2 separate regions of the Homo sapiens genome follow, and region 2 is linked to region 1. The links come from fine-mapping of genetic effects on gene expression. Tissue or cell type: whole blood. Region 1 holds a variant in brackets; the other region holds the start of a gene. All regions are shown on one strand. Distances are between the middles of the regions.

Region 1 (8,103 bases):
TGTTCCTCAGCGTGGATAAAGCTCTTTGCCCTCCTTATGGAACTATGGCACGGTTTTGCTCTCGACTCTCTTGAGTCCTTGCAGAGGAGGCATGGAAAGATCTGGTGTGAGTCACTGCCATCGATCAACATGACATTGTTCTCGAAGGGCTCGCAGTGGGGAAACCTAAAAAGGAAGAAAATGAGAGCACTTGCCAAGGCTACTGAACAAAGGGTCAAGCACCCAGCCAGTCACTGAGTTCCAGACTCTTAATAACAAGGTTATGAAGCTATGCGAAGCCTTCATCCCTTCTCATAACTACACAGGCATGTCGGGGCTTCTGAAGTTGTGACAGTGATTTCCTTTAAAGAAAACGATTCTAAGTAAACCAAGGACACTTCACCCTTGACTTTGAAAATGTCTACAAACTTTCCCAGAGCAAATCTCTGCCGGCGTTTCTCACTTCCCGATCTGATCGGCCTGAGGAGCCCACGGGCTGGGCTGGCACGTTCTTTTGTTCAGCTTCTCTACCGGAAGGAGTTTGTGTAAAAAGGAATAGAAATCAGTGTTCATGCCACAATAGGGGTAATTGTTCTGAGCTGCCACATTCCGTTAAATGTTTACCTTTTTGTTTCACAATCTAACAGGAAACGAGGAGCAAAGGATTTTTGGTTCCCTTATCCCCCTTTGGTCAAGACTAAAAAAGACCAGTTGTTATTCTAGTTGCTCAAAAATGAAATGCTCAAGGTAGGAAATGAGCACAGTTGCTAAAGACTCCAGATCACAATCTGGGGTTTCAACCAAATCCGTTGCATGAAATGTTTCAGAGGAATGAGGCTTTGTCAACCTTCTCCATGTGCCTCCAGGACAGGATGTTTAGCAAGAGGTGCTGAACATTGTAACCATCTTTCTATGTGATCTATAGAACACTATGGATGACCAAGATAAAAAACTGGACAGATTAGATTCCTTAGTAGCCAAATACAAGGTAGGGAAGTGGCAAAAAGCTGGGACCCGTTGGGAAGGAGGCCGGAGGGCTTCGCCAGGCTCTCCTCCGCCATTTCAGATCCATCCTTCAAGACCAGACCCCAACCCAGCTTCTACTTCGAGGAGAAGTATTTGTTTAAAGTTCCATTTGTGGAATGGCCCAGCTGGGATGAAAACCAGGCTGTGAATTCTAGTACCAGCTCCACCCCTGAAAAACAGAGTAGAACCTCCCTGGGCTAACGTCTTCTAATAATCCAATCATAGAGTAAACTATGTCTTTTGGGGCATTTTAAACTTTTTTATTGCTTTGAAATAGAGTCAGGGGAAGAAAGACTTTACCATCTAGGTTCGATAGCTGGGTCTAGGAAATACACTGACAATACACAGATTTAACAGGAAAAAGGGTAAACAAATTTATTAATTTTTAATATGTGCACAGGGGCCATCATAGGAAGAAAAAAACAATATCACAAAAAAGTGATGCCATCTTAACAGAGAAAAGGGAGAGGAGATGTGGGCTACCGTGAGGAGAGGAAATGATTTTTAGGAAAGAAAAATGGGCCTTTAGAAGACTAGATGGGAGATACGAGGGTTTGTGGCAGTTTGTCCGGATGTTAAGGCAGCCCTTGCTGACTCCTGGGGAGGGGACTTAGGACAACTGATGTCCTTTTGGAGGCTCTGCCTTTGGGCAGATGAGAGGAGTTCAGGGAAACCATGTCTCTGCATTTACTGTTTTCCAGTGCTTTCTGCTCAAAATCACCAACATTCCAAAGTGGCATATTTGGGGGCAGTCTGTCCTGAACCCCTACTCGACAGTAAAAAACATTTTTTAAAAATTAAAAATGGGCCAGGCGCGGTGGCTGACACCTGTAATCCCAGCACTTTGGGAGGCTGAAGTGGACAGATCACTTGAGGTTAGGAGTTCAAGACCAGCCTGGCCAACATGGTGAAACCCCATCTCTACTAAAAATACAAAAATTGCCTGGGTCTGGTGGTGCTTGCCTGTAGTCCCAGCTACCCGAGAGGCTGAGGCAGGAGAATTGCTTGAACCTGGGAGGCAGAGGTTGCAGTGAACTGAGATCGTGCCACTGCACTCCAGCCTGGGCAACCGAGTGAGACTCCATCTCAAAAATAAACAAATAAAAATTAAAAATGGATAATTCGGTCATAAATAAGATTGTCATAGTGAAATAAATTTAATGGTTTTCAATACTTACTAAATATTTCTATATTCAAAGCCCAGTCCCTGAACTTTGCAGAGGCACTTGGGTTCAAGTCCCACCTCTGCCACTTACTAGCCGTGTAACTCGGGAGAAACCGTTTAACCTTTCCTTTCTGTGCCTCAGTCTCCACATCTACAAAAAGAGGGAGATAACAGTAGGGACTCACAGGTTTCTGTGAGGATGAAAAGAGCCAATGCAAATATAAAGTAGTGCCTGGCACATAGTAAACACTCAATAAATGCCAACACTTGTCACAATAATATCGTTACAACATTTTTTTAAAAAGGGTTTTATACTTGGAAAAGAATGTAAACTTTTTAAAAGCTGCAATGAATAAATCTGCAGCCAGACCAAAGATGTGCACTTTGTATTTAATTTTTTTTAGATTTTTCCCATCATTGGCTAGATGTACACATTCAAATTTCTTTTCTTTCTTTTTTTTTTTTTTGAGACAGAGGCTCGCTCTGTTGCCCAAGCTGGAGTGCAGTGACGCAATCTTGGCTCACCACAACCTCCAGCACCTGGGTTCAAGCGATTCTCCTGCCTCAGCCTCCTGAGTAGCTGGGATTACAGGCATGTGCCACCATGCCCGGCTAATTTTTATATTTTTTAGTGGAGATGGGGTTTCCCCAGGTTGGCAAGGCTGGTCTTGAACTCCTGACTTCAGGTGAGCCACCCGCCTCGGCCTCCCAAAGTGCTGAGATTACAGCTGTGAGCCACCGCACCCGGCCTCAAATTTCAAATAATTCTTATCAACATGAAAGTTTGACCTTCTTTTTTAGACCATAAAGGAGCATTTCACTGATGTGCATATTTATCTTTAAGACCCTTTTCATTGTAAGTGATGCCAACTGAATTCAAACCAGCTTAGGCGAGAAGAGCTCCGTGCAGGCCCAGGTGAGCACACTGCAGGAAAGGCAGACATAGTGTTCACATGAGGAGGGTGCGGGCCCAGAAGCTTCGCTCCACCACGACTCTGTGTGTCCTGAGTGTCCCCTCACTGTCACACACTGGGACAACACAATGGTCTCAGCTGGACTGCTGGGGTTTGAGGCTTCTTAGAGGCTTTCCTCCGCAGGAGCCCTGTCTATCAACAGCCGCCAGGCCCACGCCCTAAAAATTCCAAGAGTGTGGAGGAACGTGGATTTTCTCTCCGAGGTCCTGCTTAAAAAATCTCAAGGAAGAACTCATTGGTGAACTTTGGGTCCCACAGACCCTACACCAGGTCCTAGAACTGGTCCCTTCAGGAGAACAGAGCGGCAGAGGGGGGAGATTTATCAGAGTAATGGCAGAGAGAGAGGCTGACAAAAAGCATGAGACCCTCAGAGGCAACCAGGCCCTCATAAATGCTCCATGAGTCAGGTGTCTAGGAATGCAAAAGATGCAGCCAGGCGGGTGGCTCATGCCTGTAATCCCAGCACTTTGGGAGGCTGAGGCAGGTGGATCACAAGGTCAGGAGATCAAGACCATCCTGGCCAACATGGTGCAAACCTGTCTCTACTAAAAATTCAAAAAATTAGCCGGGCATGGTGGCGGGTGCCTGTAGTCCCAGCTACTCAGGAGGCTGAGGTTGGAGAATCGCTTGAACCCGGCAGGTGGAGGTTGCAGTGAGCCGAGATCGCGCCACTGCACTCCAGCCTGGGTGACAGAGCAAGACTCCGTCTCAGAAAAAAAAAAAAAAAAAAAAAAAAGATGCTGCAGGCTGGACATCACGGCCACGGTCGGTAACGTACATAAGGCTTGCCTTGAGACAGAGCTTGTTGTGAAAACCCATCTGTTCATTGATCTCAGAGGGGGATCCTGGGATGTAAAGGTTTCTTCATCCAGCAGCCAGGAGTGCTTCTGCTGGCTGCCCCTGCTGCATCAGGCAACAGTCTCGTCCCCCCCGGGAATGAGTTTAAAGAGGCAGGGCCATGCCGGGAAGGAAGCAGCTAACCCGGTCCTCGGGGAATGATTTCATTCTGGGGATTGATGAAAACAAACAAGTGTCTCTTTCAAACTGCTGTGCTGC[G/A]GTGGACTTTACAAAATTTCCACCATCTAAATCAGTTACAAAGTTGGGTGAACTATATATTTATTTATTTATTTATTTATTTATTTATTTTGCGTGTGTGTCACTCCGTGGAGTGACTTCCTCACACTTGCAAGTTCATTTCTAGTCCATCAGCTCTGTCTAGAAGTTCTAAAAAAGATCTTTTTAATAAATTCTGCTAAACATTGCAGAGGAATGGTTTGTTTTCGTTTGTCGTGAACTGTACAGGCCCACCTCCAGGCCTCTGGGGAACCATATGAGGCATTTTCCAAAGTTATTTCCAGAATAAACAAGGCTTGAGAGGCCAGCCTCGCTCAACCACGGCCCACAGCTTCACTTCTCTGCTCCAGGCGGGAGGAGAAACCCCTGACCTTCTGTAAATATTTCAACACAAGCAGTTCTCTGCGGGATTAGAATTTGTGTTTTTGAGTCAACTCTAAAACAGACCCAGAAAAGGCACCTTTCTGATTGTTCTATTGATATTGAAAAGTTTCAACTTTATGGTTTTTATGGCTGTTCAAGGAATTTCACATTCCAAGACCCTGGGGCAGAAAGGGCACAAAAGGAGAGTCTAAATGATTAGATGGTAGGGCCTGTTTTTACTCAGCCATGAACAAGGAAGGTCCCAGAAAAACTCTACGTGATTGAGAAATACTTTTGGCCACCAGCGCAACCTGCTAATTGGGAACACCCAATGCCCTTAATATGAAGCCTAAAAAATGAGATGGTGTCATCATCCAGGTTGTGGGGCGTGGAGGGGCCTTGGTGAGCTCAAAAGAGCACATCTGCCCGAAAAGACAGCCCTGCCCAGCGCCAGACACCTGGTGCCAATGCACACTGTCACGACACCATCTGACTTTTTAAAAGAGAAACAAGGAATCTCTAAGTTTTTGTTTTTTGAGACAGAATCTTGACTCTGGCACCCAGGCTGGAGTGCAGTGGCGCGATCTTGGCTCACTGCAACCTCTGCCTCCCACAGGTGATTCTCGTGCCTCACCTCCTGAGACTACAGATGTGCGCCACCACGCCTGGCGAATTTTTTGTATTTTTAGTAGAGACGGGGTTTCGCCATGTTGGCCAGGCTGGTCTTGAAATCCTGGCCTCAAGTGATCCGCCTGCCTCAGCCTCCCAAAGTGTGGGATTATAGGCATGAGCCACTTCACCCGCCCTCTAAGTTTTTAATATCGTAAACTAAAATTTAAGAGGTTAAGCGCCAACAACTCTGACCCCTCAAAGTTCTGGTCTTCCCATAATGACTTCTTGAATTTTTTTTCTGAAATCTCAAACATTCTTCTGATCCTGCCTTGGTGTGACACACGTGTCATCTGTATCGTCCCACATGTGGCCGGCCATGGCATGCACAGAGGCACCAGTGGGGAACCGACTCTCCAAAGAGACTCAGGCCTTGGGACTCACAGGCAGGCGCGTCTGGCATCCAGTGTTACATTCTGTGGTGTCATTGCCTTCTGTGATTCCAAAGCGTGCAGCGGTGTCCTGCTGAAAGTTACTGCCTGGTCAGAGCTCACCCCGAGAGGGATGGGAGGGAAAGGTCTGGGAAGCAGCAGAGGTAGCCTGCAGGAATCCAGGAGGTGAAGTCTGGAATCAGAGCACAAGGGCTGGCTCACATGGATTTGCAGACAAGGAAGTGGCCCTGGGGAGAACAGCCTAGAAGTGAATAGAGCTTCCTGCAGCCAGGCAGGTAGGCGCGAGGATGACTGCAATCCCATCATCAAGGAAAGTGTGACATCACAGCCAGCAAGCTCTGAACACTGGGGCTACTGAAAAAAATTAAGACACATAGACTGTGTCAGGCCCAGAGGCCAACTGAGCCAGCCTATTCACTGTCAGGCCGGGAGGCCGGCTGAGCCGGCTCTATTCACTATCAGGTCCCATTCACTGTCTCTGTTTCCCATATTCCTTGCTACTCCCAACCTTGTTTCCCCTGGTGGTGTCCACACTCAAGCTCTGCAATGATTTACCCATGCTGATGAGTGAAGAAATGCAACCCAAAGCCTCTTCGGTGCCCAATAATGGCCTAAGATGTTCACATCATATACTAGTTCTGTGCTGTTTGAATTTTTTTTTTTTTTTGAGGCAGGGTCTCACTCTGTTGCCCAGGCTGGAGTGCAGCGGCGTGTGCATAGCTCATTGCAGCCTCAAACTCCTAGGCTCAAGCTATCTTTGCGCCTTCGCCTCTTGAGTAGCTGAAATTACAAGGGCTCACCACCATGCCCAGCTAATGTTTAAATTTTTTATAGAGATGGGGTCTTGCTGTGCTGCCCTGGGCTCACACAATCTACCTGCCTTGGTCTCCCAAGGTGCTGGGACTACAGGTGTGAGCCACTGCACCCAGCCTTGATTTTTTAATTAACTAGTAGACTTTATTATTTTTTTAATAGTTTTAGGTGTACAGGAAAAGCAGAGCCAAAAGTACAGAATTCCCATATGCCCCAACTCAGTTCCCCTGTTATTAACACTTTGCATGAGTGTGGCATGTTCGTTACAATTGCTGAGCCAATCAGCACTATTAAGTAAAGTCCACAGTTCACATTAGTTTCATTCTTGGTGTTATATGTTCTATGAATTTGGACAAATGCATATTGACATAAATCCACTGATTATAGTATCATACAGAGTGTCTTCACTGCCCTAAAAATACTCTGTGGTCTATATGTGCTCTTTTTTTTTTTTTTTTTTGGAGACAAGAGTCTCGCTGTGTTGCCCAGGCTGGAGTGCAGTAGCATGATCTCATCTGGGCTCACTGCAACCTCCAACTCCTAGGTTCAAGCGATTCTCCTGCCTCAGCCTCCTGAGTAGCTGGGATCACAGGCATGTGCCACCATGCCTGGCCAATGCCTGTATTTTTAGAAGAGACAGCGTTTTGCCATATTGGCCAGGCTGGTCTCAAACCCCTGACCTCAGGTGATCCACCCATCTCGGCCTCCCAAAGTGCTAGGATCACAGGCGTGAGCCACCGTGCCCGGCTACATGCGCTTTTTATTTGGTAACTTATTCAATTTTTAAATTATTTTTTAAATATTTCCCCCCAAAAGTCAGTGTAGAGTCATCTTAAAATACACACACACACAACTGTAATCTCAGTGTGCTTGGCAGAAATCTAAGATGTAACCCGCCCCACCAAATTTCCAGGCCCCTGATATACACATACCGTCTTCCAGTTATCCAACCAAACGTGAATCTAGGTACTGCTGTGAAAAGGAGCTGCAATGTAATTAAGGTCCCAAATCAGTTGACATGAAAATAGAGAAAATACTCAGTGGGCCTGACCTAGTGACATGAGCCCTTTCAAGGCAGACAGTTTTCTCCAGATGGTCACAGAACAGGCAGTCGGGGCGGCACGGGAGGATTCTGTGCACCCCTGCTGGCCTGAACGGGCCGCGTGGTAGGGATGTGGGCGGCTTCTGGGTGCTGAGAACAGTCCCCAGCTGACAGGCAGCAAGGAAAGGGGACCTCAGTCTTGTAATACAAAGGACTGAATTTTGCCAACAAGAATGAGCCCAGAAGTGGATTTTCCTCAGCAAACGAACGCAGGAACAGAAAACAAAACACCACATGTTCTCACTTATAAGTGGGAGCTGAATGCTGAGAATACATGGGCACATGGAGGGGAACAACACACACGGGGCCCTGCGGGGATAGGGGGAGGGGGAGCGTCAGGAAGAATAGCTAATGGATCCTGGGCTTAATAACTAGGTGATGGGATGATCTGTGCAAAACCACCATGGCACACATTGCCCTATGGAACAAACCTGCACATCCTGCACATGTACCCCTGAACTTAAAATAAATTGAAGATTAAAAAAAAACAAAAAAAGTGCATTTTCCTCTACAGCCTTGAGACAAGAACTCAACCTGGTCAATACC
Region 2 (8,103 bases), 260 kb after region 1:
CAGGTGCACAACTACTCCTGGCTAAGTTTTGTATTTTTTGTAGAGACAGGGTCTCACTAGGTTGCCTAGGCTTGTCTCAAACTCCTGGGTTTGGCAATCTTCCTGCCTCAACCTCCCAAAGTGCTAGGATTACAGGTGGGAGCCACCATGCTGCATCAAAACATTTTAAGAAAAGAAAAAAATCCCTTTATTTTCAATTCTGTAAAATGACACCACCAGTGCTTGCCCACAAGCTCATCTTTTTTTTTTTTTAACATAGTAGTAACTACCTGATATTCTAGTTCTTTTATTATATTTTCCAAGTTTTTATAATCTTTTGGTTACTATTTTAATGGTTACCAAAATTACATTTTGATACTTAATGCACTTATTTAGGGCATTGAGGCCAAAAGGTTGAATTACAGGAGAGATGGAGGATTGTGGGGAGAGCAAGGGTGAGTAGGGAGAGGAAGGAGGGAAGAGGGAGGAGTCAAGTCACTGAGGGCAGAGGGCAGAGGTCAGAAGGCCAGTGGGATCCTGGTCCCTGCTCCTCCACTTTTCCTGGGATTCTGGAAGCTATCCAGTGTCTTTCCAACATGCTTCACCTTCCTTCCTTCCTTCCTTCCTTCCTTCCTTCCTTCATTCCTTTTCTTCCTTCCTTCCTTCCCTCTCTCTCTCTCTTTCTTTTCCTACAGAGTCTTCCTTTGTGGCCCAGGCTGGAGTGCAATGGCACGATCTCGGCTCACTGCAACCCCCACCTCCTGGGTTCAAGCAATTCTCCTGCCTTAGCCTCCCAAGTAGCTGGGATCATAGGCGCCCACCACTACTCCCGGCTAATTTTTGTATTTTTAGTAGAGATGGGGTTTCACCATATTGGCCAGGCTGGTCTCAAACGCCTGGCCTCAGGTGATGCACCTGCCTCGGCCCCCCAAAGTGCTGGGCTTACAAGTCTGAGCCACCGTGCCCGGCTGTTTTCTTAAATTGGATGGAAGTGGTTTCTCTTGGACGTTAGGTTCCGTCCTCTGTCCGACCCTGCTGGCACATGGGGGTGCTGAGAAATATCTGTCGAAAGAGTTAACAAGTCTTAAGTGATTCGAGCACTTTCCATCTTAGAGGACAGTGTGCGAGCACTCGCCCTGGGCTCTCCTGCCAGCAGGGGTCCCCCAGGGACTCTCTTCACTTTATTTGCCCTCGCAGGAATCTTCTTTCAGTTCCTCCTCCTCGGAGGCCACGCTTCCCCGACTTCTCTCGCTGGAGGCTCCACACTCCACTCACCACTGAACGGATGGCTGCCCTGTTCCTTTCGGCTCCTGCTCAGATGCCCCTTTTCCAGGGCATCCCGAGGGCCCTGTCTGAAATCACACTTGCCCTGACTACCTGCCCCTGTACTGTCTCCTTGTTATTGTTCTTCATAGCAATAAACAATTCCTACAGCGTATGTTAATGTTGTTGTCTATCGCCTCCAGTCAGAAAGTTCATGAGAGTAGAAACTTTTTATTTTGTTCACCGTTCTTTCCCCTAAACAGAGACTCCCATAGGCTGGTGCCCCACTCACTGATTCAACAAATATTTATCGAGTCTGCCTACTATAAAGGATAAATACATAAAATAGTGCGATAGCCAGGTGTGGAGGCTCACACCTGGAATCCCAGCACTTCCGGGGGCCGAGGCAGGAGAATCTCTGGAGCCCAGGAGTTTGAGGCCAGCCTGGGCAACATAGCAAGACCCTGTCTGTACAAAAAATAAAAAAGCCATGCATGGTGGTTTGCGCCTGTAATCCCAGAGGGTTGGAAGGCTGAGGCTGAGGCAGGAGGATTGCTTGAGGTTAAGATTTTGAGACCAGCCTGGGCAACACATTGAGACCCCATCTGAAAAAAAAAAAACTAGCTGAGCGTGGTGGCATGTGCCTGTGGTTCCAGCTATTTGGAAGGCCAAGGTAGAATTGCTTGAGCCTGGGAGGTCAAGGCTACAGTGAGTCATGATCACGCCACTGAACTCCAGCCTGGGTGACAGAGTGAGATCCTGTCTCAAAATAATAAAATAATAATAATAATAATAATAATAATGGCCAGATGTGGTGGCTCACACCTGTAATCCCAGCACTTTGGGAGGCTGAGGCAGGTGGATCACTTAAGGCCAGGAGGTCAAGACCAGCCTGAAGTCCTTTTCAAACCTTTTGTCATATTGCCCAGGCTGGAATACAGCAGCATGATCTCAGCTCACTGCAACCTCCGACTCCCAGGTTGAAGCTATCCTCCTGCCTCAGCCTCCGGAGTAGCTGTGACTACAGGGGCCCGCCACCACGCCTGGCTAATTCTTTTATCTTCTGTAGAGACAGGGTTTCACCATGTTGGCCAGGCTTGTCTCAAACTCTTGACCTCAGGTGATCTGCCCGCCTCAGCCTCCCAAAATGCTGGGATTATAGGCGTGAGCCACCGCGCCTTGCTCGGCTTTTTCATTTTCTTACCAGTATCTTGAGCAAATGTTTCTAATTTTGATAAAGTCCAATTTATCAGTTTTGTTCATCTATTGATTAATTTACAAAAATGGTATCTATGGTATACATCATGACTTGTTTGTTTGTTTTGAGAAGGAGTTTTGCTCTTGCCACCCAGGCTGGAGTGCAGTGGTGTGATTTTGGCTCACTGCAACCTCTGCCTCCCAGGTTCAAGCAATTCTCCTGCCTCAGCCTCCCAAGTAGCTGGGACTACAGGCACCTGCCACCACGCCCAGCTAATTTTTGTATTTTTAGTGGAGACAGGGTTTCACCACATTGGCCAGGCTGGTCTTGAGCTCCTGACCTCAGGTGATCCACCTGCCTCGGCCTCCCAAAGTGCTGGGATTACAGGTGTGAGCCACTGTGCCTGGCCATGATTATTATTATTATTATTATTGTTATTAGTTTGATGTTTTGATATATGCATACATTGTGGAATGGCTGAATCAAGCTAATTCGCATGTGTATTACTTCACGTTTTTAGCATTTTTTTGTGATGAGAACACAAAATCGATTTTTAGAAATCTTCAACTATACATTGTTATTAATCAGAGTCACCCTGAGGTACATAGATCTCTTGAACTTATTCCTCCTGTCTCAATTTTTTTCCTGTGTGATTTGTGTCTTGTCTAAGAAATATTTGCCTAACCTGAGGTTGTGAAGGTGTTCATGTTTTTTCCCCTAGTAGTTCTATCATTACGTTGTAACCACTTTTCTTTCTTCTTTTTTTTTTTTTTTTTGAGACATGGTCTCGCTCTGTCACCCAGGCTGGAGTGCAGTGGGACGATCTTGGCTCACTGCAGCCTCAACTTCCCAGGCTCAAGTGATACAGGCATGCACCACCACACCTGGTTAATTGTTGTATTTTTGGTAGAGACAGTGTTTCTCCTTCTCTTTTTTTTTTTTTTTAGACAGAGTCTCGCTCTGTCACCCAGGCTGGACTGCTGTGGCGCAATCTTGGCTCACTGCACCCTCCGCCTCCTGGATTCAAGCAATTCTCCTGCCTCAGCCTCCTGAGTAGCTGGGATTACAGGCACGTGCCACCATGCCTGGCTAATTTTTGTATTTTTAGTAGAGACGGGGTTTCACCATGTTGGTCAGGCTGGTCTCAAACTCCTGACCTCGTGATCCATCCGCCTCAGCCTCCCAAAGTGCTGGGATTACAGGCGTGAGCCACTGCACCCGGCCGAGACAGTGTTTCTCTATGTTGCCCAGGCTGGTCTTGAAATCCTAAACTCAAGTGATCCTCCTGCCTCGGCCTCTCAAAGTGCTGAAATTACAGGCATGAGCCACCGTGCCTGGCCTATCTTTGTAACTTTTGTGTTTAGGTCCACAGAAAGTTTTGAGCAAAGAACTACCATGATCTGACTTATGCAGATGCTTCTGGCATCACTCTGCTGTGCTGAGCCTGTGGCAGGCCCGAAGGCAGACTTCAGGACGCCTGTCGGGGACCTTTCCACCCATCCGGGCTTGGACCAGCTTGGGCAGAGTACAGTTGGGAGTAGAGGCCACATTCTGGAAATGTTTATCAGCGAGTTTTCTGGTGTTAAGTCCTTCCTCCCTCCTTGCTGAATAATAATCAACTTTATGAAGTTATTTCCTTTCTCTGAAGATTGAAGTGCTTGCGGCTTCACATGAGGCCACGTGTATGTACAGAATTGTCTTGAGCCTGGAGCAATGTTTGCTATGTATTTTAACTTTTCACTGTTTTAAAGGAAATAGCTGGTTTTACGTTTTAATCCACAGATTGTCATTCTTCAGGGATGGCAGCCCTAAACACAGCATGGCAACTCATCTACTCACTCATGAAAGATTAAAAAATGGAAACCAACGTATTTCATCTTATGCTCTGCGTCACTTCTGCTCGGACTCATAAATCCACGTCTCTTTGCTTTGGCCACTTCAACTCATATCCAAGCCTTCCTTTAATTCATGATTTATTGCTGTAAGTTGCCTCTTTTGCCAGATTTATAAACTCACTGTTCTTTATATAATACCTACTTTGTACACTAGGCAACAAGACAGTTAATTTATTGTCTATGACTTGTTACCTTGAAAAATTACATCAATGCAAAGTGATTGCCTTTTAGCCTCCATAGCCAATAAATTCATTTTTTTTTTTTTTTTGGAGAGGATGATGTCAGGTCATAGGATGATATATATAATCAGTGAGCAGGCAGAATGAGGAGACAGTTGAAAGTTCTCTACAACAGAAGCCAAGAAGGAAGCCGTCTATCTTGTGGCGATCATGTATAAGCTGGCCTCCTGCTGTTTGCTTTTCATAGGATTCTTAAATCCTCTCTTATCTCTTCCTCTCCTTGACTCCAGGGAAATATCCTTTCAACTCTCAGGTAAGATTTTTTTTTTCCCCTTATGTTAGTCTTGAAAGAGCCTTTACTAGTCTTAAATTCAATGTTAGAGATAAGAATGGGATTCCTGCTCGAAGGAGTCTGGAGTCTTGTTCTCTCAATAGTCCCAGCTTTGAAAAGAATATTAAAGGATCCTTACTGCACATTTTAGATGTAGTAATGGATACAGTTTTTTTTCTGTCTCTACAATGTAAAAGGAGAAGAGGATAATTGCTTGTTTCATGTTACCTCTGTACTCTTGTTTTGGGTAATATATACATTTTTCCAATTTTAAAAATTGCATGAAATTTAAAACATCATTACTTTTAGTTTTTACTTTAAATGAACTGGTTGAATGTAGCACTGGTTGTTCTAATTATAGATTATTAATGGATTTATTTGTTTCACCTTTTGTTTAAAAAAATCATCTGATATGTGTTCTACGAAACAAAAATGTTTACTAAAAATTTTTTAGTAAATGACAAACTAGGGAACTAGGGAGTTCATAGACTTCCAAGTATATTGATCGTTTCCTTTTGATTTATGTTAATTCAGTTTAAGTCTAAGTTGAGTTAAAGAAATACACATCAGTCAAGTAGTTTCTCATTTTGCCATTATCTTTCCATTTAGTTAGAGAAATGAGAAAGCTAATGCTTGGGGATTAGGTTCCATCAAAAACTTAACTAGATTTAATCTTATCTTTAATCTTGAGTACTTTTTAAATAGGCTTTTTTTAAATAAAGAAAAAAAACAAACAAACCCTCTTTTAAGCCAAGGATTTTATAGTTTCTCGTCTCTAAAAGTTCATCCCAAGCAGCTTTCTGATGATCGTCAAGCACTGTCATCAGGCACTGCCAACCAACTTCCCGAGTCACCGAGATGATCATTGGCTGTCCTACTAATAGTTAAACACTGGCATTAACTTTACTGAATCTCTGCTATTTACAAAGAAACAGCACACATCTCAAGATGAAATAAGTGAAAATACTCAGCTACTACTGTCATCTTAAAAAATTTTACAAGTAATTTAAGAAACATAGATGAAATGAGTGTAGCATCTCACACAAATTCGAAACAAGTGGCAGCTTATCGCAGAATTTGTTCTCATTTATTTCTCCAGAAATGTGCTTTCCTATCAGCATTTACAGATGATGAAATTTTATAGATTTTCATTAACAGTCTTTAGAAGTGCTGTGAATGTGCTCTGATGCCTTTATGATGATCTGCTCACTGTCCTCCAATCAAGGTTGCAGCTATTTGTAAGCCTGTGGCACGCTGGTCCCACACATGGCCTCCCACCCTGACTCCCACAGCCTCGAATCGCAACACAGCAGCAGGTCTGCACTTACCACGCCTCACACTCCGGTGTGCCCTTTCCACACACCTTAAGCGCACTTACCATGCATTCTATATGCCATCTGGTCGACCACATTTCACATAGGAAATGCCACAATCAAGTTCCTTACAGATGATTTTGAAGCCAATTCTAAGTATAATAATTGTATTGAAATCTTGAAGTTCAGTAAAAGAAGAGGTGATACCATCCTACTGGCTTTATAGGAAGATTGTAAACGATCTTTCTTTTTCCTCTCCAATGTCACCACCCAAATATCTAAAAGCAAAAAGGCAGTAGGCAGCAGTAGATAAGCAGAAATGAGGGAGAGTCAGACTTTTTGAACCAAAATGGTTTTGAGAAAGGCTGTGGCTTATCCCTCAGCTCTTGTTCGAGGCAGCCGAGGGGCTTGGCTCATCACGCGGGTGTCAGATCCACGTCTCCCGGCTTCCCATTCTGCTGGCTGGCACACGGGCTGGTAGCATTTCCACCTCTTCTAGAATACCACTGATGACACGTCATGAACTCAGCGTTGGAAGTTTTTCTAGTGTTCATCTCCCTATCTCTGGTGCTCGCCAAAGACACAAGGAACAGAAATAACTAACTGAAGGATGAACCCAATTCTAAGTATCTGTTTTTACTCTGTAGCACCTCATGAAGACGCGCGCTTAACTCCGGAGGAGCTAGAAAGAGCTTCCCTTCTACAGATACTGCCAGAGATGCTGGGTGCAGAAAGAGGGGATATTCTCAGGAAAGCAGGTAAAATGCTTCTCATGTTTATAGCGTGTCTGATTTAATTGCTACTGAACTTACCGTCTGTCCTCATCTAGAAGAGGTAAAGCTCTATTTTGGAATATAAAGATGAGCTATATAAAATAAGTAATTACCAACACTCTCCCCTCCCGGCCTGTGCAACCTTCTTTTCCCCAGCAGCTCCTTGCTCGCACTGTGCTCTTTGGTACCTCAGCATTTTGTCTTTCTGTGTGGACTTTTATTTTTGCGGGGTAGAGCTTGGTGGTAATTATTCCAGTTTCCAGTGAGTGCAATTTAAAATCCTAGTTTCCCGTTTACTGAAAACTTAAAGTAATCTTTCTGTACTCCAGTTTCTTAATCTGTAATCAGGAATGATTAAGTTTCCACCTCAGAAGGTAACTTGTGAAGAGTCAATGAGTCAAGGCAAGTAAAATGCTCGAGTCACACAGAAAGTCATTAATAAAATGTCAGCTTATTCCCCCGTGGCCACATTCCCCCAAGCATTGACACATATGCTCAGGAAGTTCTGGAAACAAAATTGAGCCTTTTGCTGGGTGCGGTGGCTCACACCTGTAATCCCAGCACTTTGGGAGGCTGAGGTGGGCGGATCACTTGAAGTCAGGAGTTTAGGACCAGCCTGGCCAACATGGTGAAAACCCATCTCGACTAAAAATACAAATATCAGCCGGGCATGGTGGCGGGCACCTGTAATCCCAGCTACTAGGGAGGCTGAGGCAGGAGAATTGCTTGAACCCAGGAGGCAGAGGTTGTGGTGAGCCAAGATCTCACCACTGCACTCCAGCCTGGGCAACAGAGCAAGACTCTGTCTCAAAAAAAAAAAAAAAAATTTGAGCCTTTTAAGATAGGTATTGTTTAATAGACAGGAGTTCATTTGTTATAAAATATCTTTGACGAGCTACTGGACTGCGAAGTTACTGAGGACAATGCAGTGACTTCTGTGAATTCGAGATAAGAACAGGAGTGCCTGTCTGTCTGCATTCAAGAAAAGCTTGCTGCAGTGTGGAAAAAGACCAGAAACTAGACATAATTTAGTAATATTATTTTGTATATTTTAAAACAAGCATACAAGAGAAACAACAGATCTGATGAACTGGCTTCAAAACTGTTTTTCAGACTCAAGTACCAACATTTTTAACCCAAGAGGAAATTTGAGAAAGGTAAGTGACTCTATT

What was found. PIP is the estimated chance that this variant, and not a neighbour inherited with it, causes the effect.
Region 2: UTS2 starts here. The variant in region 1 is fine-mapped to the expression of UTS2 in whole blood (TOPMed, PIP above 0.99).

The regions. Positions count from the first base shown.
Region 1 is chr1:8,113,536-8,121,638 of GRCh38, reverse strand. ERRFI1-DT (ERRFI1 divergent transcript) reads right to left here. Exons shown (of 3, transcript NR_185980.1): 3 at 1-165. Among named protein-coding and RNA genes, the nearest start is that of LINC01714, 91 kb to the left of the region's middle. RefSeq lists enhancers at 223-532, 5,545-6,045. The variant G/A (reference allele first, on the strand shown) is at 4,201.
Region 2 is chr1:7,849,625-7,857,727 of GRCh38, reverse strand. It overlaps UTS2 (urotensin 2), which reads left to right and starts at 4,663. Exons shown (of 4, transcript NM_006786.4): 1 at 4,663-4,827; 2 at 6,806-6,916; 3 at 8,045-8,088. The coding sequence starts at 4,725. RefSeq lists an enhancer at 4,455-5,143.